Linked DNA regions of Homo sapiens. The protein of the gene in region 6 purifies or fractionates together with the protein of the main gene of each other region. This does not show direct contact. Each region holds a gene or a part of one and is shown on either strand. Other genes may lie near its edges. The genes, in order: ROBO1, FGFR4, BCAM, DAB2IP, ADGRA3, CLEC4A and IGDCC3.

Region 1 (3,500 bases), on a different chromosome or scaffold from region 6:
GAGAATTTTTACTTCCTGCTGACCAGCACTATTTTATTTAAAGGCAACTGTTTGTGGACCTTAGGAATCAGTCTTCTCTTGACCACCTAGTATAATAATTGCTGAAAATGGGCTGAAACAATCATATTACACTGTTTACATCTGTTTGGATGCTCCTCTTACCTTTCATCTACAGAAATGTTGTACTCTTCGCTATTGCTGTGTGGAGGAGGATGTGCTGGGGGAGGAGGAAGCAGGTCTGCCCAGTTCATGCCACCCTGTTTTGGTACCTTGGGTGTTCTTGCCCCTTTCTTGTGCCCCTGACTCCCTAGAAAGGAAATAAAATAGAAGCCATTGATCTCTGGCCTTTAAACTTTTTCCATTAGTCACAAGTTAATTATTTTTTGTAAATATGATTTTATAATTCATTTATATATACAGAGATAAACATGCTTTTTCATTAATTTTAAACAGAACTTTGTACAAGAGAACATGCAAGGTACTGCCATGAATAACTGCAAAATAAATAGCAAAAAAGCAATAAAACCATGAATGAATGTTTCAAGTCATATCATTAATAGTGATCTTCCTGCAGCAATTAATTGCATTATGGATTATCATCTCAAACAAATGAGCTGTAGATATATTTTCTCGAGTGCCTTTCTATTATTTAATTGCTGGAACTTAAAATACAATATGATACAGATACGATCTATTAGAGTTCCACTGTTGCATTAAATCACTGAATATATATAATTTGTACTTGTCCATTGAAATGTTTTAGGCACAATGAAATTACTAGTTCCCTTCAGAAAGGCAAGTACAGATGAAATAATAGCTGGAATAACTGATAGAACTAATGACAAAAGAAGCAGAAAAATGATTTTTAAAAGGGACAGAAGTGTTTTCAGCCACTGTTTCTGTACAATGATGGCTTATGGTAAAATGATGTTGCTTGAACATTCTTAGTAGTTTGACATAGCCCAATCATTCAAGTGCTCCAGTGTTCTCATTTTAGATCTGGCATATTTTTTAAACACAAGAGGCTATATATTTGAGAGCATTTATTTTAACAAAAACTTTAGGTCAACAAATATTTTGGGACAAAATATCCCCTTTCCAATATGTTATATTTTTGATTCATATGTGAATTATAGACAATGAGTCTATGATTATTTTTCTCATAAGTTCCCTTTATATCAGTGCATTATGTTGGCCTTAGTTTTTTAACCCTATCCAATCCTTCTCCAAGTCATGTAATATATGAATCAGGTCTGATCATATTCAATGAGCCTTGATTTTTTTGTCACTTGGGAATTTTCAGTCAAATGGCAGTGTTTGTTAAGCCAGATGTTCTTGTACTGGTAGGTTACCACACTAAGCGTGGGCTAGGGACAGGCTGTTATTAATAAACTACGATTATCAGTCCTATGTGTATGTCTCTCACTTCTCTCGTCCACCACTCCGGTGTCCAGCATTGGGATAACTGTGCATGTGTTGTAGACTAGACATTAACCCACATCTTCCTCTGGATTTCCTGATATACATCTACTGTAGCAACTCCATCAGTCCGGAGAGGCCTATCACAGATCTCTCCTATACCTTATTTACTTGCTTTGTTCTCTTCCCTAATTACCATCACGCATCTTTACATCTTTTTACCATATATTCACAGAATATCAAATGATATATAGCAGTAGAACACCCAGATCTAGGTATCTAAGCTGAGGGATGCTGAAGGTCAATTAAAGATTAATAACCTAGAATCATTGTTTATTTTCCCATTAAGATATGGTTTTCTCTATGTGACTAAAAATTCAAAGATCAAATGGCATAAGATAATCAAATATTAAAATATTTCATATGATTTTCTTAAAAGTAGATCCTTGAAATATTTCTCTTAATTCAGGATTGACTTAGCTTCAAAAAAGAAGTCATTTAATAAGATGTTAATTGTTAAAACAAACAAATAACATATAATAGAATCAGAGTAAATCTAAAAGGTAAAGGGCCATTTCTAAGCTCCCTTAATTCCAACAGAAACACAGGCTAGACAATGCCAGACCAGCGTGTTAGTTAAGGGAAAACTGTAAAATGCAAATGCCATATTCATTACAGAAGAAGGGTGGAGACTCTTGGCTAAAAGCCCCTAAGAACAACTTTAATCCAGTTGCTGGGAAGTGGCATTTCTACCCTCTCCTGGAGAAACATTGCTAGAGTCAAGATCAGTCGGTTTTGTTCTCATTGTGGTGTGATGTGCCACATGTTAGTTCTAATAACGAACTGCCTTTAATTAGAAAAACAGGACTTAAGTACCCAGCAAGCTCCCATCTGCAGCCCCTATCAGGAAAACAGCTGGCAAACAGCTGTAACAGCATGAAGACCACAGGGAAGAGGCCTCAATGTGGCTTTGGGAGGCACTTACAGACTGAGGTTGGGAGGTTGCTTTACGAGGCTTCAGAGCAAGAACTGAGGGATCGTAGAGGGATGATAAACTGAGACAGGCTCCTATTGTACCTGAATCTCATGTTATTGTCTCTCCGGCTTTTGATTCTGCTCAAGTGTCCTCAAACATTATGTGCTTTTATAGGCTCGTTTCAAATGGCAACATATTTAGCAGGTTAACTCTGTGCAACATTTTTAGTTATATTTTGGCCAACGGGGAAAAAGTTTCAACTGCCTTTAAAGATTAACCAGACATGTTTCTTCTGGCTTTGCTAAAGCTCATTAACAAGGAAGAAAATAGGACACTTAGTCTTTTTGCCAAATAGAACATAAAATGATTTAGTGAGTGGAAAGTCCCTCAAATTGCAGAGACAAGACACATGCCTGAGACTCAAATTACATACAGTGATTTAGACATGTCACCTACATACGTCAGTCCATTAGCACTCAATTTGTAATCTTGGAAAGTACCAGCTTTTTAAAGGAGAAGTTCTTTGGTTCATCTTACTTACCAGATGTACTACTGCCCCGGTCTGAGCTGTTGTAGGATCCTCCTGTGTTCTGGTCGTATGATTGGTTGTATGGGATAGTTGGAGGAACTGTGTCATTTGCTCGATAATCTAGACATATCAGATGAAAAAACAATAAACATTTATTTTCTCTTCATGAGCGATTTCACATCTCTGCTTTCTCTATATTTCTGAGTAACTAAAGAAACAAATTGGACCATTTATTTGCCTTTTTTCTCTTCTATTGTTGTATTCAGATTGTCAGGATATAAAAAGGCTTATACTCCAAATATATATAAACTATAAATAACTTTAATAATATAATATCAATATGATTTTAATAAGAATCACAAAAATGTCTGCAAATCATAAAAAATAAATCACAATACATAAAAATAAAACTGAAACCTGTCAGCAAGGTTATATCTAATAAAAAATATATCTATGATTAAAAAAAACAAATATCTTAATTTGCCCCAGAAATGCTTCTGCTTACTTAGGCAAAGGTGAAAATCCAAATGATAAGCTTGCCACTGGAATGTAGTCAGTAATAATCTGTCGTCTAGT
Region 2 (3,500 bases), on a different chromosome or scaffold from region 6:
CCCTAAGCTGGGCTGCAGAGCTGGTGGTGAGCTCCTTACCTGGGTGTGTGTGCGTGTGTGTGTGTGTTCTGTGCACTGGGTGTGTGACCTAGGAGGTCCAGGCAGCATGTGTGGTATAAGCATTATGAGGGTGATATGCCCCGGTGCAGCATGACCCTGTATGTGGCACCAACAGCATGTGCCTTGTGTGTGTGTGTGTCCGTATGTGTGTGTGTGTATGCGTGTGTGTGTGTGTGTGTGTCTTGGCCACTGTCGTGTGCACTAAATGCTGTGTGTGTGACATGCCCCAAGAGTGTGGCATTTGCCCTGGGTGTGGCATCCGCAGCATGTGGCTGTGTGGGTGTCAAGGAGTGGTGGCTCCTTCAGCATGCGTTGCAAAGTGCTTGTGCCCTGCATGTGCGGTGTGTTCTTTGTACACAGGAGGCTGCCTCAGATGGGGCTGCGGGGTCTGCTGACCTCTGCCCTCTGCCCACAGAGCCCTGCCTGGCTCCCAGCCTGGAGCAGCAAGAGCAGGAGCTGACAGTAGCCCTTGGGCAGCCTGTGCGTCTGTGCTGTGGGCGGGCTGAGCGTGGTGGCCACTGGTACAAGGAGGGCAGTCGCCTGGCACCTGCTGGCCGTGTACGGGGCTGGAGGGGCCGCCTAGAGATTGCCAGCTTCCTACCTGAGGATGCTGGCCGCTACCTCTGCCTGGCACGAGGCTCCATGATCGTCCTGCAGAATCTCACCTTGATTACAGGTGGTAAGAGACTCTAGCAGGGAGTGAAGGGATGCCTGGGGAGACAGACCTGCCCCTCTTGGACCTTAGATGCTTCCCTCTGTCCCTGATGTAGACTCCTTGACCTCCAGCAACGATGATGAGGACCCCAAGTCCCATAGGGACCCCTCGAATAGGCACAGTTACCCCCAGCAAGGTCAGTAGGTCTCCAAGGACTTGTGTCCCCGCTGCTGCTCATCTGATCACTGAGAAGAGGAGGCCTGTGTGGGAACACACGGTCATTCTAGGGGCCTTCCCCTGCCCTCCAGCACCCTACTGGACACACCCCCAGCGCATGGAGAAGAAACTGCATGCAGTACCTGCGGGGAACACCGTCAAGTTCCGCTGTCCAGCTGCAGGCAACCCCACGCCCACCATCCGCTGGCTTAAGGATGGACAGGCCTTTCATGGGGAGAACCGCATTGGAGGCATTCGGGTGAGTCTCTGGGTTCCAAGACCGTCTGCTCCCCCATTTTCATTCCTTCATCAGTCCCCTCATACCTACAAGCATACCTATAAATCAATCGAATGAGTGAAGCGATTGCGGGGCCCCGGAAGGAGCCCTGGACTGTGGACCTGGGCAGCTCTGGTTCCCCTTCTGCTACTCTCTGGCAAGTGACTTAACCTCTCAGCCTCAGCAACTCCATTTGTAAAGGGAGAAGAATCACTGACTGGTTGGTCTGCATAAGCCTTAGCATCTCATCGTCTTGATGAGACCCTGCAGGGTCGGCTCCATGCTGTCATGAGGCAACTGAGTCTCAGAGAAGGCAAGGGTTGGCTCAAAGTAGCACAGCTAGGGAGAGGGAGAGCTAAAATTCCAAAGGCTCAAACCCAAGGCTCAAGCGCCCTGGGGAGCCTACTCCTTTGTGCCATAGTCCTTGGCCTGGGCCTGATGTTCTCAGGGCCTAGAGAGCTTGACAAGAGCCCTGTGGGCAGGATGAGGATCTAGCCTCCTGGTCCTCTGGCCCCCTTGGTGGACATGGTCCGGTGGTCCCGGACACTCTCTCTGCCTGCAGCTGCGCCATCAGCACTGGAGTCTCGTGATGGAGAGCGTGGTGCCCTCGGACCGCGGCACATACACCTGCCTGGTAGAGAACGCTGTGGGCAGCATCCGCTATAACTACCTGCTAGATGTGCTGGGTGAGCGCGGGGCTGGGAACAGGGGAGGCCTGACCCATTTTGGGCTCAGTTGTGCCCTCTTGGTGGGGTCTAGTCTGGCAGGCAGGATGGACTCAGATGAGTCAGGCAGCTTGGTGAGCAGGTGGGTCAGGGGAAAGCACAGGGGTTAGTGTGGGGCTGGAGGAGCAGAGGTCTGCCAAGAGGAAAAACAAGAAGGACATCCAGGCAGAGGGCGCAGCCCGAGCGGAGGGCCTGAGTATAACAAACGCCCTGCACTTGCAGGCCAGCATATTCGTAGGGCGTGGCGTTTATATGGGGAGCCAGGTGGTGGAGGGTTTTGAATGCTAGGCTGAGATGTTGTCCTTGACCCGAAGCAATAGGGAGCCAGGGAAGGTTTAAGCAGGGTAAGCAGGAGACAGACAAGAAGCTGCAGAAAGGTCCCTCCCTTGAACTTGAGGAAGGCTGGAGGGAGGCAAACAGGGTGCTTCTATGGGTGCCGGTGGTCAGGGTTGACTGTCTCGCCCGGTCCCCAGAGCGGTCCCCGCACCGGCCCATCCTGCAGGCCGGGCTCCCGGCCAACACCACAGCCGTGGTGGGCAGCGACGTGGAGCTGCTGTGCAAGGTGTACAGCGATGCCCAGCCCCACATCCAGTGGCTGAAGCACATCGTCATCAACGGCAGCAGCTTCGGAGCCGACGGTTTCCCCTATGTGCAAGTCCTAAAGGTAAAAGGTGCACCCTGCTGCAGCCTGGGCCCCATTCTTCTCCCACCTTGGGTTGGGGGGCTCCCCAGCTTCCCTGTTGGCCACAGTGTGGCCCCAGGCCCTGCTGTGACCCCAGAGCATGTCCCCCACCCCAGACTGCAGACATCAATAGCTCAGAGGTGGAGGTCCTGTACCTGCGGAACGTGTCAGCCGAGGACGCAGGCGAGTACACCTGCCTCGCAGGCAATTCCATCGGCCTCTCCTACCAGTCTGCCTGGCTCACGGTGCTGCCAGGTGAGCACCTGAAGGGCCAGGAGATGCTGCGAGATGCCCCTCTGGGCCAGCAGTGGGGGCTGTGGCCTGTTGGGTGGTCAGTCTCTGTTGGCCTGTGGGGTCTGGCCTGGGGGGCAGTGTGTGGATTTGTGGGTTTGAGCTGTATGACAGCCCCTCTGTGCCTCTCCACACGTGGCCGTCCATGTGACCGTCTGCTGAGGTGTGGGTGCCTGGGACTGGGCATAACTACAGCTTCCTCCGTGTGTGTCCCCACATATGTTGGGAGCTGGGAGGGACTGAGTTAGGGTGCACGGGGCGGCCAGTCTCACCACTGACCAGTTTGTCTGTCTGTGTGTGTCCATGTGCGAGGGCAGAGGAGGACCCCACATGGACCGCAGCAGCGCCCGAGGCCAGGTATACGGACATCATCCTGTACGCGTCGGGCTCCCTGGCCTTGGCTGTGCTCCTGCTGCTGGCCGGGCTGTATCGAGGGCAGGCGCTCCACGGCCGGCACCCCCGCCCGCCCGCCACTGTGCAGAAGCTCTCCCGCTTCCCTCTGGCCCGACAGGTACTGGGCGCATCCCCCACCTCACATGTGACAGCCTGACTCCAGCAGGCAGAACCAAGTCTCCCACTTTGCAGTTCTCCCTG
Region 3 (3,500 bases), on a different chromosome or scaffold from region 6:
ATCCAAGTCAGAATCTGCTTCTCAGGAAAGCAGACTGCAACACCTGCCACCTAAAATAATCCCCTCTCCTGCTCTCTCTCACTGGTGATATCACCTGTAGATACACTACTGTTACGAAAGGGCTTAGTTAGCATTTACCATCTGTCTCCCCTACTGAAATAACAGGGGTGGTCTGTCTTGTTCACAGATGTGTCCCCAGCATCTGGCGCAGGGTCTACCCCAGGAAGGGATATGTAAGAAGTGCCAAGGGAGAATACAGCCTTTCCCCAGGGCCTGGATGCGAATGAACTGAAAATCATTCTTAGAAGCCTGGGATTCAAGGGATTGGTGAGAAATAGACGGTAGGAAGGATGGGCAGTGAAGGTAGGAACCAGAGGAGCCTGGGGGGTGATGAGGAGATAGCCTTGACTGGGGAGAAGGATCAGCTAGCTAATGGTGGAACTGGCCAGGTGGACCTTGAAGGCCATGGTGAGACACCTGGGCTTCTCCCAAGGGTACTGGGGAGCCATGGCAGATTCTGAGCAGAGGAGGGTCAGGTCTGTGCTATGGAAAGAGCTCTCGACAAGATGCGGTGGCTCACTCCTGTAATCCCAGCACTTTGGGAGAGCAAGGCAGGAGGATCGCATGAGGAGTTCGAGACCAGCCTGGGCAACGTAGCCAGGTCCTGTCTCTGGGAAAAAAAAAAAAAAAAAAACAACCAAAAAAACCCCCAAGAAATGCAGAGAAAGGGTTGAAGGCAGAGTGTTTGGGATGACAGAGCAACTTCAGGGCTGTAGGGAGGAGGGCGCAGAGGCACTGATGCCAGGGCCCCTCCTGCCCGCCCGTTCACCCAGGGCTCTCACAGGCCACGCGCAGCTCCAGCGTCTTGGAGAGCTGCACGTCATCTGCCGCGTCGTAATCCTCCACTCTGCAGCCATAGGTCCCGCTCTGGCCCCGGGTCACTCCCTCCAGGGTCAAGTTCCCCTCGAGATTCACATTCAGCACTTCCTCCTGCTCATCCTGGGAGACGGGGGACGAGGAACCAGGCTCAGAAGCCACCCCGGTTCAGCGGGCTCATGCTAGGTCAGAAGCCACCAGGTTAGTGTCATGCTAAGCCAGAATCAGGGGTCAGGGGCCATCAAGTCAGGTGGCATGCTAAGTCCTGACTCTCTCAAATCAGGGGTCAGAGGTCCTTTTAGTTCGTGGGCCACCAGATCAGGTGGCTGCCTAAGCCATGGGGACTCCCAGGTCCCACATTAGAAGTTATGCAGGTTAGCAGGTCACAGAGGTCAGGGGCTGGGGGGTGGATCCCAGAGGGACCCTTGGGTGGGTCACCTGAAGGCGGAAAAGCGTATACTCCGGGCTGGGGCTGCCGTCCCCCCGGCAGAGCAGCTGGACAGTGTCACCCTCGCGTACCCAGCCTGCTGGGGTGGACGGGCTGCCCACCCAGAACTGCACGTGCTCCGTGGGATCTAAGGGAAGGGCAGGGAGATGGGAATTGTGATCAGGGGAAGGGTCAAGGCTAGAGGACAGGCGAGAGGTCAGCCCTGCATCCCAGGTGAGGGCTATGGCGGGTCAAAGGTTACGGGTCATAGGTTTCAAGCCTCAGGTTCACAATTATTCTGAGTGCCAGAGTTCAGAGGTTGAAATAAACTAAGAGTATAGGTCAAGAGTCAGAGGTCCGTATGGGCGATGGGTCAGTGTGAGACTTGGAGCCAGATGTCATGGGGGGACCCAATTCAGTGTGAGAAGGTGGAAAGCACCATTTAGTCATAAACTTCATGGGGTCCAGGGTGCTAAGTGGAGGTCGGAGGTCAGAGGTCAGGATGGGGCTTGTGCGACCAATTGAGGTCAGAGGTCAGTGGCCAGCACTAGCACATTTTTTTTTAGCATGAAGTAGGGAGGCAGAGGGTCAGAGGGGAGTGTGAAGCCCCCGGGTGGAGGGTCAGGCCTCATGAGGTGTGGAGCCTGAGGTCAGAGGTCAAAGGCCAGCACAGACTCACAGTGCAGGGTGAGGTGGAAGGTGGGGCTGTCCAGGCGGCCGTGGCGGCCCTCGGGCAGGCTGTAGTGGGCGGCGCAGTGGAAGCTGGCGTCTCGGTCATCCTTGCGGAGCCGCAGGTAGAGGGTGCTGGTGAGGGAGAGCAGGCCCGAGGCCTCCCGGACCGTGCGGCTGGTCATGTAGCCCTCTGGGAGAGATCGGGGGAGGTGGCAGTCAGCCAGGCCATAGCCCCGCCACCCACCCCAGCCCACGTCCCGCCGCGCTCCTGCGCTGCTCACCTGGGTTCATCTCTACGGGCACCTCCAGGCGCTGCCCGTTGCGATACCACGTGATCTTGGGGGCCGGGTTCCCGTTCCGGCTGTTGCAGGTGGCGATCTGAGGCAGACACGGGCATGGCCCTGGGCTTGGAGCTGGGACTCTGAAGTCGGGGCTCCTCTCTCAGGAGTTCTCCCCACTCAGACTCATGAGCCGGGCTCCTAACTCCCGACTCTCCCAGGACCCAGGAGTCCAAATTCCTAGTCCCCGACTCAGACTAAAGAGTCCAGGCCTCCAGCACCATCCTCCAGGGACCAAGGATTCTGGGTCCCCCAGCTCTCTCCTTCCTAGGACACAGGAGTCTTCCCCCTCTGCCCTTCCTTTCTTTTTTCTTTTCTTCTTCTTTTTTTTTTTTTTTTTGAGACGGAGTATTGCTCTGTGGCCCAGGCTGGAGTGCAGTGGTGTGATCTTAGCTCACTGTAGCCTCTGCCTTCTGGGTTCGAGTGATTCTCCTGTCTCAGCCTCCCGAGCAGCTGGGATTACAGTTGCACACCAACACACCCAGCTAATTTTTGTATCTTTAGTAGAGACGGGGTTTCATTATGTTGGCCAGGCTGGTCTGGAACTCCTGACCTCAGGTGATCCGCCTGCCTCTGCCTCCCAAAATGCTGGGATTACAGGCATGAGCCACCTCGCCTGGCCTTACCCCTCCTCCTTTATTACCCAGGGGTCCCCAGCCCCTCCTCCCTCAGACCCAGGAGTCCAGGGCCCTGTCCCCTCCTCCTCCAGGACCCTGGGGCCAAGGTCCACCCGAGAGGTACCTCCTGGGCAGAGTCCTCCATCACAGACAGTGTCCCTTTGTTGGGGGAGACCTCAGTGGCCTCTGGCTTTGCTGTGAAAAAGACGTTCACGTCAGGAGCCCCTGCCCTGCGCCCCTCCCTGCCTGCCTCCCTTCGGGGGATGCCCGAGGACACTTACCAAACACGTTGAGCCGCGCAGTGGCCTCAGCAGTGCCTGCCGCCCCTGCCCTCACCACGCACACGTAGTCTCGCTCGTCGCCCACCTGGGCCTCAGCCAGCACCAGGCGCCCCTGGGAGTCCAGCTGGTATGGGGGACTGCGGCCCCGGGTGTCGTGCATTGTGACCTGGAGCTCAGAGCCCTGCATCTCAGCCGAGGCTAGGCGGGGGCGAGCTCCCGAGCGGTCGGTCTGTGGGCGCGGGGCAGGCTCTCAGCTCCGGGTGTCCCAGCGCTCCTCAGTCTCTCTCTC
Region 4 (2,699 bases), on a different chromosome or scaffold from region 6:
TCTGACTTTCAAGGTGTTGAAAGCTTGGAAATGTTTAGTCCAGCCCTGCCATGACTTGCTGGGACCTGGGCCCACCTCTTCTCCCTGGTCTCTTCCCTCCCAGAGCCAGATTTCAGTGGATGAGAAAGCGCTTAATGCAGGGCCTGGCAAGAGCCAGTGTGTGCTGCAGTGAAGGTGCTGGGACCACCCTGTCTCCCAGGAGGTGGTGGGACCAGCAGACTTTTCTTCCAAACGTATCAGAGCCAGAGAAGAGCCTTTAAGAGGACAACTGCTCTACTCCCTGGTGCAGAGACCCCTCAACCCAGAGGAGGAGGGGGCAATCCCAGATCTCCCAGTGAGCCAAGCTGGCCAGACCACCACCACTGGCTTTAGGGGTATCCCCTGCCCACGAATGCCACCAGAGTGAACCAGATGCTGGGGTCCCCTTGGTAAAGGACAGTGTCCGCTCCGGACTCAGGGTCATCCCTTAACACACAGCTGAATGGAGACACGAGTCGGGCTTAAAATAGCTAAATAAATCTTTAATATTTCTAATTGCAAATGTACAGAAATTGCACAGCCACACAGAGTCTTAGAACACCAACAGCTTCCTCTGTACATTATTACATAGTTAAAAGTCGCAGCTGGAGGGAGGAGCTCCAGCCCAAACTCCAACGTTTGCATTTTTTCCTTTTCACATACTTACAAAAGAGGGGAGCTGGGACGCGGTGTGGGAGCTGGGGGGCTTTGTGGCTGAGTGTGTAGAAAAGAGAGAGGCTGTTTCCCTGGACAGTCTGGCTCCCGCAGTCGTGCGGGGCGCAGGGGGAGGTGTACCTGGGGCAGATGCTCTGGGGGACCGGGGCGTGTGGAGCTGTAGCCTCGGTCCTCCACCCCCACTTTCTGGGCAGTCGGAAAGAGTCCTCACTGACAGGAGGTTTGGCAGTTTCCATCACCCAGAACATGGAAGTTAAGCAAAAAAGTCAGTCAGGCCTCTGTGCTAGCAGGGAGGGCGTGGCTTTCTCCAGCAGAGGCTGAGTCTCGGTGACCAGGGGGCCCCGGGGCTGTTCTTCCCCAGCAGGGACTGTCCTTCCCTCCAGGGCCTCTGGCAACCCCAGCCCTGGCTGCAGGCAGGGCCCAGCTCCCGGGAACTCAGGTTCTCTGTGGCCTGGGCAGGAGCCCCCCGTTGACTGGCCCAGTGAAGGCACCCCAGTGGCCACTACTCAGACAGCAGCTGCAAAGCCAACACACAAATGCCACAGGCAGGGAAGACACCCCCCGCAGACACCAAGCCTTTTCCTCCTGCCCAATACTGTTCTCTAGATTCAGAAATAAAATAAAACCCTTGGGAGAGCAGCAGTCCCGGCCAGCCCTCGGCAGCACCAGGACCAAAGGATATGTACAACCATTAGGTGAGATAGTTACATTACAGTCAAACACCAAGAACATTTACAAAATCGGCAGACTTGCAATTAAGATAAAAATCTGTGAAGAGTCTGTACACTTTTACAGTTTTTGCACTAGGTAAATAAGGCTCTCGGCCTGAGAGCTCACCCACCCTGCAAGGGCAGCTGGCACCGGCCACAGCGGGTAGCCTCCGAGCCCGCCTGTCCAGGCCCCGGGAGCCTCCCTGTATTGCTAGGGGGGCTCTGTCCGAGGTCACTCTACGAGGCAGCGGTGGGAGGGGGCTGGGGAGAGAAGAGCAGGGCTCACTGGGCAATGGGAGGATGAGACTGGAGCCAGGCCCTGCCTGTGTGGCCACCCTGGTCTCAGGCACGAAGGCGCATGGGTGGGGACAAGACAGAAGAGTGAGACAGGAAGGGGTGGGGGCAGGGCCTCTGCTTCCACCTCCCATCTTCCTGTGGTCTGTGATCCCTGGTGGCCCAGCCCTTCCTCCACCAGCATCTGTCTCTAGCCTAACTGAATTGTAGGTTACATCTAAAAGCCCCTTCCCAGAGCAGCCACTGTCACCTGTCCCCGAGCTCAGGGTGGACGCAGTATGGCTCTGGGCCACCCCTCCAGCACATCCACCCTTCAGGTGGGGCCTCTGTGGCACATTCCAGCTGCAGGGGCAGAGGGGTGATTCCTGCAGCTCGCCCTGCCCTGGCTCTGCTGGCAAAGGCCCCACTCCCACCCTTCTTACCCAGGGCCTTTGCTCAGAATCTGCAGGGGCTGGGAACAGACAGGGGCCGAGAGAGACCCAAGCTCCTGCTCATCTGTCTTGAAAGTGGGGGAGGGGCAGATAAGCTACAGAACAGCCTAGAGCTGAGGAAAACCGGCCCCAGCTGTGGGGTGCGCCCCTCCCCTGTATGCAGCGCCTGGGTCCTTGGCCGGGGGCCGGGAAGGGTGAGGAGGAGGCCGGCCACACACACGGGGCAGGTGCAGGCTGCTGCTGTCTTGGAGAGGGAGCAAGTCTAACATCCTCCAGGGCCGCTATTTCCCATGCAGTGCGCACGCTCAACTTAAAAGGCCCCTGTGTTCCAGCAAGCGAGCAAGCGGGCTTTTGTTTCTAATGCATACTGTGAAAGGAAAAAAAATCACAGTTATCCACCTTCTCAGGGCCTGCAGGCGTTAGAATCTTTTTTTAAACCATCACTCAGAGGAAGGATCACCTTTTCTTTCAGGGTGAGCACCAGGTGGCACTCCCTACAGGACCACTGTGCCCTGGGTGTGCTGGGCCCCAGGAGAAGGCAGATACAGTGCTCAGAGCCATCTGGCCAGAT
Region 5 (3,500 bases), on a different chromosome or scaffold from region 6:
CCAGCCTGGGCAACCTGAGTGAGACTCTGTCTCAAAAAAACAAAAAATAAATATAAGTTGACTACACAATAATAAAATGTGAACTTATAGAAACCAGACTCATGCTTACAGAAATCAAGACATCTTCCATTTACAAAGAGAATCAGAATCATAAACTGTCAACACTAAAGTTAATCCCAATTGAATAAAGGTCCTTTATATATACAAATATACAAATATAGCCGAGTCTATAAACATACATGTTTAAATATGTTGCTTGCACTTGTATAAAATGCTCAATTATGTCAATGAAAAGATAATCCCTTTACTCTGATAAATAATCTATTCACCTTTCTGCTTGCTTGACCTGTGTACCAGGTAAGGTATAAGTTGAATTGAAACAACAACAACAACAAAAAAAAACATACAAGAGTCAAAGAAAATTATTTATAATTCAGGTTTACTTCAAGATCATTTCTAGTGCTAAATGCTATTTTTTTAAGAAAAGAAAAATTCATGAAATGTAAAATATATCATGTTTCAAGGTATTTAGCACTTTGATAAAACATTTTCTAGAAAACAGATTTACAGCTGGAATCAGAAATAACATAGAAGTTCCTCACACCCAGAGTAACCTCAAACCATTTCTGGGAAATGTCTTTCACACTCGTCAGTAATTCCTTCCACCGTACTCTAAATATACTCCTTGATGTCAGTATTTATAATAATTACAATATAAAATAAGAACTAGCATGGTTTATTTCATAATTATCTGCTCAGACGTCAGATTCACTTAAAGACCTCATTAATAAAAACACTTGCTCCTGTACATTAATAACTGTTATTTTACCCCCCAAAAATTACAGGTTGAGTATCCCTAACCCAAGAATCCTAAATCCAAAATGCTCCAAAATCTAAAACTTTTCAAAGAAAATGCTCCTTGGAGGATTTCAGATTTTTGGATTAGGAATGATGAACTGGTAAGTGATAATGCAAATATTCCAAAATCTGAAAAAATCCAAAATCCAAAACATTTTTAGTCCCAAGCATCTCAGATAAGAGATAAGACTCAACCTGTAATTAGTGTTAACAACGGCAAATAACAGAAAACAACACTAGACTGGCATTAAAACTGAAAAGACATTCTTTGTGTCAATACTGTCACTTGCAATGACAAAAATGAAATTATCATGATTAATTCTAAATTTAAATAGAGTCTAACAATTACGACATGTAGTGGGAAACAGCGCTAGATTGCAAAGTAGGAAAATGTTCTTTCACTACTCACTGTGTATCCTTCGGCAAATGAAATCACTCTTTCTGGGCAGAGGGAATCTGCATCAACAGTCTCTCCAAGTTTTAAGGTCAAAGACTAACTGAACTGATTGACTTATAAAGTTGATTTAAAATTCCTATATACCAAACTCAATCCCATACATTTCACTTGGTAGTAACTTAATTTCCCTTTAAAATCAAAATTAGAACACATATCATCTCATATAATCAAAGGGAGCAAATTATGTTAAAAGTAAAAAAAAAAAAAAAACAAAAAACAAAAAAACACTTCATTTGAGCTTAATTATGCATAGCAAAAATGTAGAATAGTGTTTATGCATAAAGTTAACAACTGCCATACCATTAAAACTGCATAGTTACTAAGGGAGTAGCACTGAATCGTAGTGATATTTTCATCTGAATAGAGTATATGGCACCCATCTGACTTCCAGCCTCCTTGTCCGTTCAGCAAATCGAAATCCCACCGGGCTGCAACAGCATCTGCTCCATGTGCAATTCGACGCAGTGTCACATTAACAGGGATGTGGTGGGTATCTACATTCACACCATCTGGAGAAAATGGGAAATAAAAATATTTCTGAAACAAACTTCATAACCAATTATAAATGTCAACTTCTACAGTAATGGGTACTCTGCAAGATCTTTCTTCACTAGTGACTCATTAAAACGAGAAAACACTAAAATAAGCATTTTTAGGAACAGTCAACTACAAGGCCTTATTGTCCACTGACTACAGGATAACATATGCCACATACAAACCTATTTTGGTGAGAATCACAGGGGTAACCACAGTACGTCGTTTTCCATCATCAGCCAAATTTGTTGAATTTCCAGTGGCTGGAAAAAGCTTTCCATTGCGGAATGCAATGAGTTGAAGCTTGTAAAGAGAGTCATCAGTTGGTCTGAGTTCTCTTTTTTGCTTTGGTGAGAAAAGGGAAGGAGGAAGCTGAATAGAAGCCTCCACAATAGTATTCTGAAAAAATATATATACATAAAAAAAGCTCACTACATTAGTACATAGAAACCAGAAAAAAATATGTCAGATAGTTACAAAAGTGGTATAATTAGGTTGACTTCATTTTTTAAATTGGATATACAAAATTTAACAGTTAAAAAAATCATCAGTCAAGCGAAATGTCAACACCACATAACATAGATTAAAAGAAGTATAAAACAGAAATGCAAACTTTAAAGAGTTAAATAAGTAAACAAGAAAAGTGTTTCAAATTAACAAAGTTAATTTTCCCATGATATTATATGTTGAAGTAGATAGCATTAAACAGATCAAGGATCTCAATGATCAGGCTGTATCAATTTTACAATGATAAAATATGATAAAGAAGCACAAATGTAGCATATCATAAATATGAGTATAATTAATTTGGGCTTATGGAACTTTAAGGTGATTTATGATGAATTCAAACCTCCACACAACAAAAGAATGAAATTATACAAACATAATAGAGGTTTAGATTCAGTACACTTAGCAGAAATTTCCTTGAGACTAGGAAACACATTTAGAAAAAAAAAATAATAACACATAGGAACAACTGAAAATGCTGACTGATCACTGAATTTTTTCAGATTTCTTTATTGAGGATTTTTAAATAACAAATTATTCAGCATTCAGTAAAAAATATATATATACCAAAGAAGTGAACAATTAACCATCTAAAAACATTCCATAGTTGAAGAATTTATTGTACAATCTTTTTCTTGGCTTCTAACCTCTCTTCTTCTAATTCCATATTCACCGGAATTTCCCCTTAAGAAACAAATCGAATCATGTTATTCCAGTTTAAATAACACCTTGGTTTTGCAATGTTTAATACTAAGCCCAAATCCTAAGTTCACCATATAATTTGATGAAAATCTATTGCTCAGATGTATCCCCTGAATGCTCCTATAGCACAACCTAAAACACAGCTACACTGAGTTATCAATTTAAGTTCTCCTATATTCTTTTTATGCCACCATGCTCACTGCACAGACCAGCATCTCTACCTGAAATGCTCCACTATTCTTTCATCTCACAAACTTTTGAATTGGTGTAACGGAAAGTGGATTAGAATGAAAAACGTTGGCAGCCAGGGGGAAGACTTTATACAGAGTCCTTGAAACAGGGCTTTTTTGGACAGTTAATTGCATCTCCTCAGTATATTGCATCTTCAGATTAGCTGCTTCCTCTTCTGGACTCACACAACACTCTGCACACATTAGTCATA
Region 6 (2,746 bases):
AGTCAATCCATAGAAACAGAGGGTAAAATGATGGTTGTGAGGGAATGGAGGGCAGTGGAGAAAATCAGGCAATGTTGGTCAAAGGGTACAAATTTTCAGTTCTAAGATGACGAAGTTCTAGAGATCTAATGTGCTGGATGGTGACTATAGTTAATAATGATGCATTGCACACTTGAAATTTTTTGGGGAGTAGATCTTGCTTTGTGTTTGTTGATACCAATGGACAGAATGGAGTAGATCTTAAACGTTCTCACTACACACAAGATTGTTAACTATGTAAGATAATGGGTGTGGGTTAAGTAACTTGATTACGGTAATCATTTTACAATATATATGTATGTCAAATCACCACAGTGTAAACCTTAAATATATACAATTTTATTTGTCAGTGTATATATATATATTATAATATATATATAAAATATAATATATATATATGTCAGTATATATATACAATTATATATCAGTATAGTAGGGATGAAGAGAAAACCAGACAGGAGGAGACACCACATCATATAATTTTATTGGTAAATAATTCTTTAGCAACCAGATAAAAATTAAGAGAGACTCATGTTCTCTCCATGTGTGCACAATGGGGGCCTCCAGTACAGGCTCTGGCACATGAAAAAATGCTCAATAAATGCTCACTTTATGAAAAAGTGAATCAGTCAATGTACAGACCAATTCTCTCATAAGTAGAATAGTTGACAGACCACCTAAATTCTATGGACCTCCCTTACACATGAATAAGAAGAGCTTATTATCTATCCCTACAATGACAGATACCAATCCAACCACCTGTTCATGGAGAATGTTCAGTTCATAAGTGGATCTTCATCATCTCACAAACTGACCTTTGAGGACCAAGACAATTAACATCATTCCAGCCCCATCTTTTGGGTGATTTACGAAAATTTAGCACAACGCAGCGCTCATTGGGATCACTGGGCTCACGTGGATGCCAGAATCTGAAAGCGACAAAAAGGATGAGGGCATTTCTTCAAACAGAGCTTTGAAAAGGGTTAGAGACAGGGGTGAGGAGCGAGGGATGAATTTCATGGAACATAGGGTCAGATATGCCCAAATCCACCTTTCTGCTACTCATCATGCAGCTTCTCCTCCATCTGCATTTCCGGCATTTCCTTTGAAAACTGTGCCTATGTCACTCAATGTTCTCTACCTTACTGCTTTGAATATCCTCACCATAGATTTTCTAGAGGTTCTCTTCTATTTGTCCATCCTTATGTCCTGTTCCTATGGGTCCATCAACCTATAGGGTGTCCTTGTATGATGAAAAGATTTTACCCTGGTCCCACTTATCAATAGAGTTTTTTCCTTTTTTTAATGCACTGTTTTTAAAGTCTAGAGAACTAGTAAAATCTTTTGAATCTTCTACTTATCCTTGTTATTGGACAAGTAATTTAACTTCCCTGATTCTCAGTTTTTCTATCTAAAAAATAAGGACTAGAGTAATATCACTATTTATTTCATACAGTGGATATGAAGATCGAAGGTGGTAATCCAGTAAAGTATGTATTTTATGTAATTTATGTAATATATGTAAAGTATGTAATTTATGCAATTAAAGAATTACATAAATATGAGATATAAGATTATCAGAATTTAGCATTTTTGCTTCATAAGAAGCATTACATCTTCAGCCTGACTGGGTGTGGTGGCACATACTTGTCATCCTAGCAACTCAGAAGACTTGGGTGGGAGGATCAGTTGAGCCCAGGAATTCAAGGCTGCAGTGAGCCATGATTGCACCACTGCACTCCAGCCTGGTTGACAGAGTAAGACCCTGTCTCAAAAAAGAAAAAAAAAGCATTATTAAATCTTAATAATTGGTTATGATCTTAATCAACATGGGTTTTCACTATGTAGAGACAGGTAAATATACGGGTTAAAAGCACAGTAAGATCCACCTGATTTGAGAACAATTGTTGACACCACTGGGTGACCTTAGCTGAATTATCTACACTCTCCAAGCTCAATTTCCTCATATCTACAGTGGGAAAAATAACAATGTGTGCCTCATAGGGTTCTTGCGCAGATTAAATGAGATAATGAAATTATTTAACCTAGTACCCAAGAGCTAAAAGAAGAGTGAGCTATTTTACTTTTATAGCTGATAGCTAGAATACCCTAAGCTCTCTGCATGATCCAGGACCCAAGATTCTTTTATCTCATTCTATACTCACGTGGAACTTTCATTGTATGGTGTCTGATCAACCCATTGCCAATGTCGCTGACCTTCTGGATCTGAGAGCCCCACAAAATAAGCAGATTCTTCTTGCAGATTCTGGAAGATGAAATCCTGAGGGGGGAAAAGAAGGAGTCACAGCCTTTACAGTATTCAGCTTAAACTGAATTCTTAATACCTTAGAGAAACAAGAAGAAAAGGAGAGGATCCAGCAACAGCTGCATTAGAGCTCTACGTAGGAATGGGGATCTCTGGCTGAGCAGGGCAGAATCAAAGACATCGCTTGTAAGCATGATGTTCAGTACATACGGAAGGAATTTTTTTTTTTTTTTTTTTTTGAGATGGAGTCTCACTTTCTGTCCCAGGCTGGAGTGCAGTGGTGCAATCTTGGCTCACTGCACCTCTGCCTCCCAGGCTTAAGCGATTCTCATGCCTCAGCCTCCCCAGTAGCTGGGACTACAGGTGTGTGCCACCATGCCTGGCTAATTTTTGTATTTTTAGTAGAGGCTGGGTTTCACCATTTTGGCCAAGCTGGTCTTG
Region 7 (3,500 bases), on a different chromosome or scaffold from region 6:
CAGACATTTTTGGTGGAATCACTCAGTCCAGTTTAAACAAAGACAGCAGTGAGCTGTTTGGTTTTTCATCCTGGGTACTCTTCTGTTGCATTCTACGTTTATTGAAAGCTATGGAGAACAGCCTTCAAGCTACTGTGGAAAACTCTCTCTCTTTCACTCACACACACACACACACACACACACACACACACACACACCAGCCTGCAGGCACTCTGGAGAGAAGAGGGGAGAGGGAAAGGCAATACAAGAAGGCCAGGAGTGAAAAAGTCCTTTCTCCCTGGGGGTGGGGAGGGGACAGAGGGTTAAGGGGGGCTGGGGGCCTGTTTCATTTGCAGGCTGCAAATGCCTCTCCTATTCACCGGCCCACATTCCCAGCCAAGGCGCCTGGCCGCTGACAATGCCAGGAACAGGAACAGAGAAGATTTGCACATTGTGTTTAAGGGGCCAGCTGGCTGCCTGTGACAGTGGAGCCAAGGTGTGGGAACCAGAAGCGTTCGACTTCCACACTCAAGTTCTGCGGGTGGGGGTGAGTGGAGGCCCTGCACACAGAGTAAGGGGGCCCTCCCCCTACAGTTGGGGGCCAATGAGCCTGGGGACATAGGCCTTGTCTAGCTAGAGAGTAAAGCCCAAGGCAGGAGACCCAAGACCCCTGCATGGAGGGGGTACCAGGCAATTTAGTCTCTGATTCACACCCCATCTGGTGAGGAAGAGAGAATCTCAGTTCCTCTAGAGATAAACACGCGGCAGCAGCACCCCAGGATCCTGCCCCGCGTGCATTATATTCCCCTGCCCATCCTCCCCGTTCACAAGCTTCTGTTCCTTTGAGCTGTGCTATCAATTACAAGGGGGGTGGGGTGGGGAGCAAAAGAGAAGCAGAGAGAGAAACAGAGGAGAGACAGAGAGACAGCTTTGTCCCAGAAGGCCACATGTTCATTTAGTTTTTACCAGGCTCCACAGGCAGGGGACATGAGAAATACAAAAGAAAGAAGCCCTTTAGGAGCTTAAAATCTAGTTGAGGAGACAGATGGAATATCCAGCCACAAAACAGTTACTTAACAATGCAAGCAGCCATCACCAAGAGGGTTTAGCGTGAATGCCACAGACCACAAATGCTCCCTGCCTTAGGAAGGGGAGGAAGATATGACTGTAAGCAGGATGGTCTTTGGGGAGGGATCAGGTATGGGAAGAACCAGGCAGAAATAGACTTGGAGGAGGCCCAGGGGAGGCAGGCACGTCTTGAAGATGGATGGAAGGAAGCCTTCGTACCCCAGAGCAGAGGTGAGCCTCAGTCCAACCCCCTCACCTTATAATCAGAAAAGCAAGGCCCAGAGAGGGTGGGCAACTTGTCCACAGCCACACAGGATCCCTGGTGTCCAGACAAGGGCTTTTCTACCACACAACTTCTCAGCGGTGTCAGAAAGGGTCAGTTTGTGCAGTGCTGACTGGCAGGTTAAAGTGTCTGAACCCCATCCATTTGCACCTACCTATGAGCTGAGGCTGGGTACAGGTGAGGCCCTGACATGAGGGTAGGCCTAGGTATGGGCACTCACTCATCGCTGGGGACAGCAGCTTCCTGTCCTAATGGACAGGCAGATGTGTGTGTTTGAGGAGCTGCGGGGGAGACTTCCTCAGGCCTCCCTCAGTTAAGCGGGAGAAGAACTTCATTCCTTCAAGAAGGAGAGAAGAACTTGCATTCCACACACCAGGCCTGAGCAACTAACCTCCAGGTGATAGAGGCCTCCAGGGTTACCAGCCACTGTGCCAGGAACTACCTCCCTCCATGACCCACCTCCCTACACAGGGCACCCTAAATACCAGGCTGTACTCCCCAGCAGCTCCTGCCCGCAGTTCTCCTAACCCCCACTCCAACCTGGTTCCACAGACCTCCACCCAGACCCTGCCCCCAGAGCCACACACCATGAGCCTTTTTGCTGAAAAGGGACTCTAGAATAGCTGGTGAAACTGCCTTCCCTCTGACAAGTTAAAATGATTCAGACTTCAGAAGTAGGAACTGAGGGCCTGAGAGGCTAGGTGACTTATTGAGGCGGAGAGAGCAGGGGACTAGAACTGGACTTTCTCTCCTCTCCCCATGTCCCACTGCCTCTTTCTAGGAGTCTGGAGTCACCAGGGACCTTTCCGGGAATGATACCACAACTAAAGGAGCTCATAATTTAACATGTTTTCACCTCTGTTAGCTCCTCAAAATGATAATAGTTAATATTATTAGTACCTGGCTGGACACGGTGGCTCACACCTGTAATCCCAGCACTTTCGGAGGAAGTGTGTGGATCACTTGAGGTCAGGAGTTAGAGACCAGCCTGGCCAACATGATGAAACCCTGTCTCTACTAAAAATATAAAAATTAGCCTGGCATGGTGGCAGGAACCTGTAATCCCAGCTACTCAGGAGGTTGAAGAAGGAGAATTGCTTGAACCCGGGAGGCAGATGTTGCAGTGAGCTGAGATTGCACCACTGCACTGGGTGATAGAGCGAGACTTGGTCTCAAAAAAAAAATATATATATATATATATATATTTATATATATATGTGTGTGTGTATATATATATGTATGTATATATATGTATGTATATATATGTATGTGTATATATATGTATGTGTATATATATATATATATATATATATATAAAATTAGTACCTTAATAATAGTTAAGGAATGCTGCCTTTGTGCCCTGTGCTAAGCTCTTCCTGCACATTATCATAGGTAATCTTCACAATATTTCTCCTTGGTATTTTTTATTATTTTATATTATTCCTCCCCCATGTTATTTATTTATTTATTTAGTAGAGACAGGGTCTTGCTCTGTTGCCCAGGTTGCTCTCAAACTCCTGACTTCAAGCGATCCTCCTGCCTCAGCCTCTCAAAGTGCTGGGATTTACAGGCATGAGCCATCACATTCCCCCATTTTAAAGATGAAGAAGCCAAGGCTCAGAGAGGTGAAGTGACTTGGCCAAGATCTCACAGCTAGCAGGTGGTGGGGCCAAGGCCCAAGCCCACCAAGCCCAGGTCTGTTTGCCACCACAACCCACATTTAAACCACTGTTGGGCCTGCCCAGGCAAGATGGCCCCAGGCTGGGAGTGAGGGCAATCCTGGCTCTTGGAGAACCCAGCCAGGATTGAGACACCTGGGACCTCATCCTAAATTAGTGGGCAATACTGAGCACCAACAATAATACTTAGCATTTCCTACATGCCAAGCCCTGTGCCAGGTGCTTTAGACCCATCACCTCATTTACTCCTCCAATAGCCCTGACAGATGGATGGAATGGTGCACATTTTTTCAGATGAGGGTACAGACTCTCAAGAGGGCTAAGTAACTCCTGCCAAGGGCACTGATCATTGAGTGGCAGAGCTGGGGTTCAGACCCATGGAAGTCTGGCCCTGAAGCCCTTGTTCCAAAGGCTTCACTATGCTGCCTGAAAATCCCCACAGCGGAGGTTATGACATGGGTGTGGTCTCTGCTAGCCCCTTGCTACTCAGA

The links.
Region 1: the proteins of CLEC4A (region 6) and ROBO1 purify together in Homo sapiens (co-immunoprecipitation; 2 studies listed by BioGRID and IntAct, with this or other methods). This does not show direct contact.
Region 2: the proteins of CLEC4A (region 6) and FGFR4 purify together in Homo sapiens (co-immunoprecipitation; 2 studies listed by BioGRID and IntAct, with this or other methods). This does not show direct contact.
Region 3: the proteins of CLEC4A (region 6) and BCAM purify together in Homo sapiens (co-immunoprecipitation; 2 studies listed by BioGRID and IntAct, with this or other methods). This does not show direct contact.
Region 4: the proteins of CLEC4A (region 6) and DAB2IP purify together in Homo sapiens (affinity purification with mass spectrometry; one large-scale study listed by BioGRID and IntAct). This does not show direct contact.
Region 5: the proteins of CLEC4A (region 6) and ADGRA3 purify together in Homo sapiens (affinity purification with mass spectrometry; one large-scale study listed by BioGRID and IntAct). This does not show direct contact.
Region 7: the proteins of CLEC4A (region 6) and IGDCC3 purify together in Homo sapiens (affinity purification with mass spectrometry; one large-scale study listed by BioGRID and IntAct). This does not show direct contact.

Annotation. Positions count from the first base shown.
Region 1 is NC_000003.12:78,630,999-78,634,498, forward strand, and holds part of ROBO1 (roundabout homolog 1 isoform a precursor), read right to left. Parts: intron 3,045-3,500; coding exon 2,937-3,044; intron 308-2,936; coding exon 163-307; intron 1-162. UniProt on the Homo sapiens protein: Receptor for SLIT1 and SLIT2 that mediates cellular responses to molecular guidance cues in cellular migration, including axonal navigation at the ventral midline of the neural tube and projection of axons to different regions during neuronal development.
Region 2 is NC_000005.10:177,089,915-177,093,414, forward strand, and holds part of FGFR4 (fibroblast growth factor receptor 4 isoform 1 precursor), read left to right. Parts: intron 1-475; coding exon 476-739; intron 740-830; coding exon 831-911; intron 912-1,023; coding exon 1,024-1,190; intron 1,191-1,770; coding exon 1,771-1,894; intron 1,895-2,406; coding exon 2,407-2,597; intron 2,598-2,731; coding exon 2,732-2,870; intron 2,871-3,223; coding exon 3,224-3,417; coding exon of another isoform or gene 3,418-3,491; coding exon 3,492-3,500. UniProt on the Homo sapiens protein: Tyrosine-protein kinase that acts as a cell-surface receptor for fibroblast growth factors and plays a role in the regulation of cell proliferation, differentiation and migration, and in regulation of lipid metabolism, bile acid biosynthesis, glucose uptake, vitamin D metabolism and phosphate homeostasis.
Region 3 is NC_000019.10:44,812,103-44,815,602, reverse strand, and holds part of BCAM (basal cell adhesion molecule isoform 1 precursor), read right to left. Parts: intron 3,441-3,500; coding exon 3,212-3,440; intron 3,126-3,211; coding exon 3,055-3,125; intron 2,354-3,054; coding exon 2,257-2,353; intron 2,166-2,256; coding exon 1,983-2,165; intron 1,452-1,982; coding exon 1,315-1,451; intron 1,000-1,314; coding exon 843-999; intron 1-842. UniProt on the Homo sapiens protein: Transmembrane glycoprotein that functions as both a receptor and an adhesion molecule playing a crucial role in cell adhesion, motility, migration and invasion.
Region 4 is NC_000009.12:121,783,332-121,786,030, reverse strand, and holds the end of DAB2IP (disabled homolog 2-interacting protein), read right to left. Parts: 3' UTR 2,496-2,699; coding exon of another isoform or gene 2,486-2,495; 3' UTR 501-2,485; downstream 1-500. UniProt on the Homo sapiens protein: Functions as a scaffold protein implicated in the regulation of a large spectrum of both general and specialized signaling pathways.
Region 5 is NC_000004.12:22,411,567-22,415,066, forward strand, and holds part of ADGRA3 (adhesion G protein-coupled receptor A3 precursor), read right to left. Parts: intron 2,249-3,500; coding exon 2,035-2,248; intron 1,825-2,034; coding exon 1,616-1,824; intron 1-1,615. UniProt on the Homo sapiens protein: Orphan receptor that may have a role in planar cell polarity pathway.
Region 6 is NC_000012.12:8,136,362-8,139,107, reverse strand, and holds the end of CLEC4A (C-type lectin domain family 4 member A), read right to left. Parts: intron 2,321-2,746; coding exon 2,205-2,320; intron 969-2,204; coding exon 821-968; 3' UTR 501-820; downstream 1-500. UniProt on the Homo sapiens protein: C-type lectin receptor that binds carbohydrates mannose and fucose but also weakly interacts with N-acetylglucosamine (GlcNAc) in a Ca(2+)-dependent manner. Involved in regulating immune reactivity.
Region 7 is NC_000015.10:65,368,003-65,371,502, forward strand, and holds part of IGDCC3 (immunoglobulin superfamily DCC subclass member 3 precursor), read right to left. Parts: intron 1-3,500.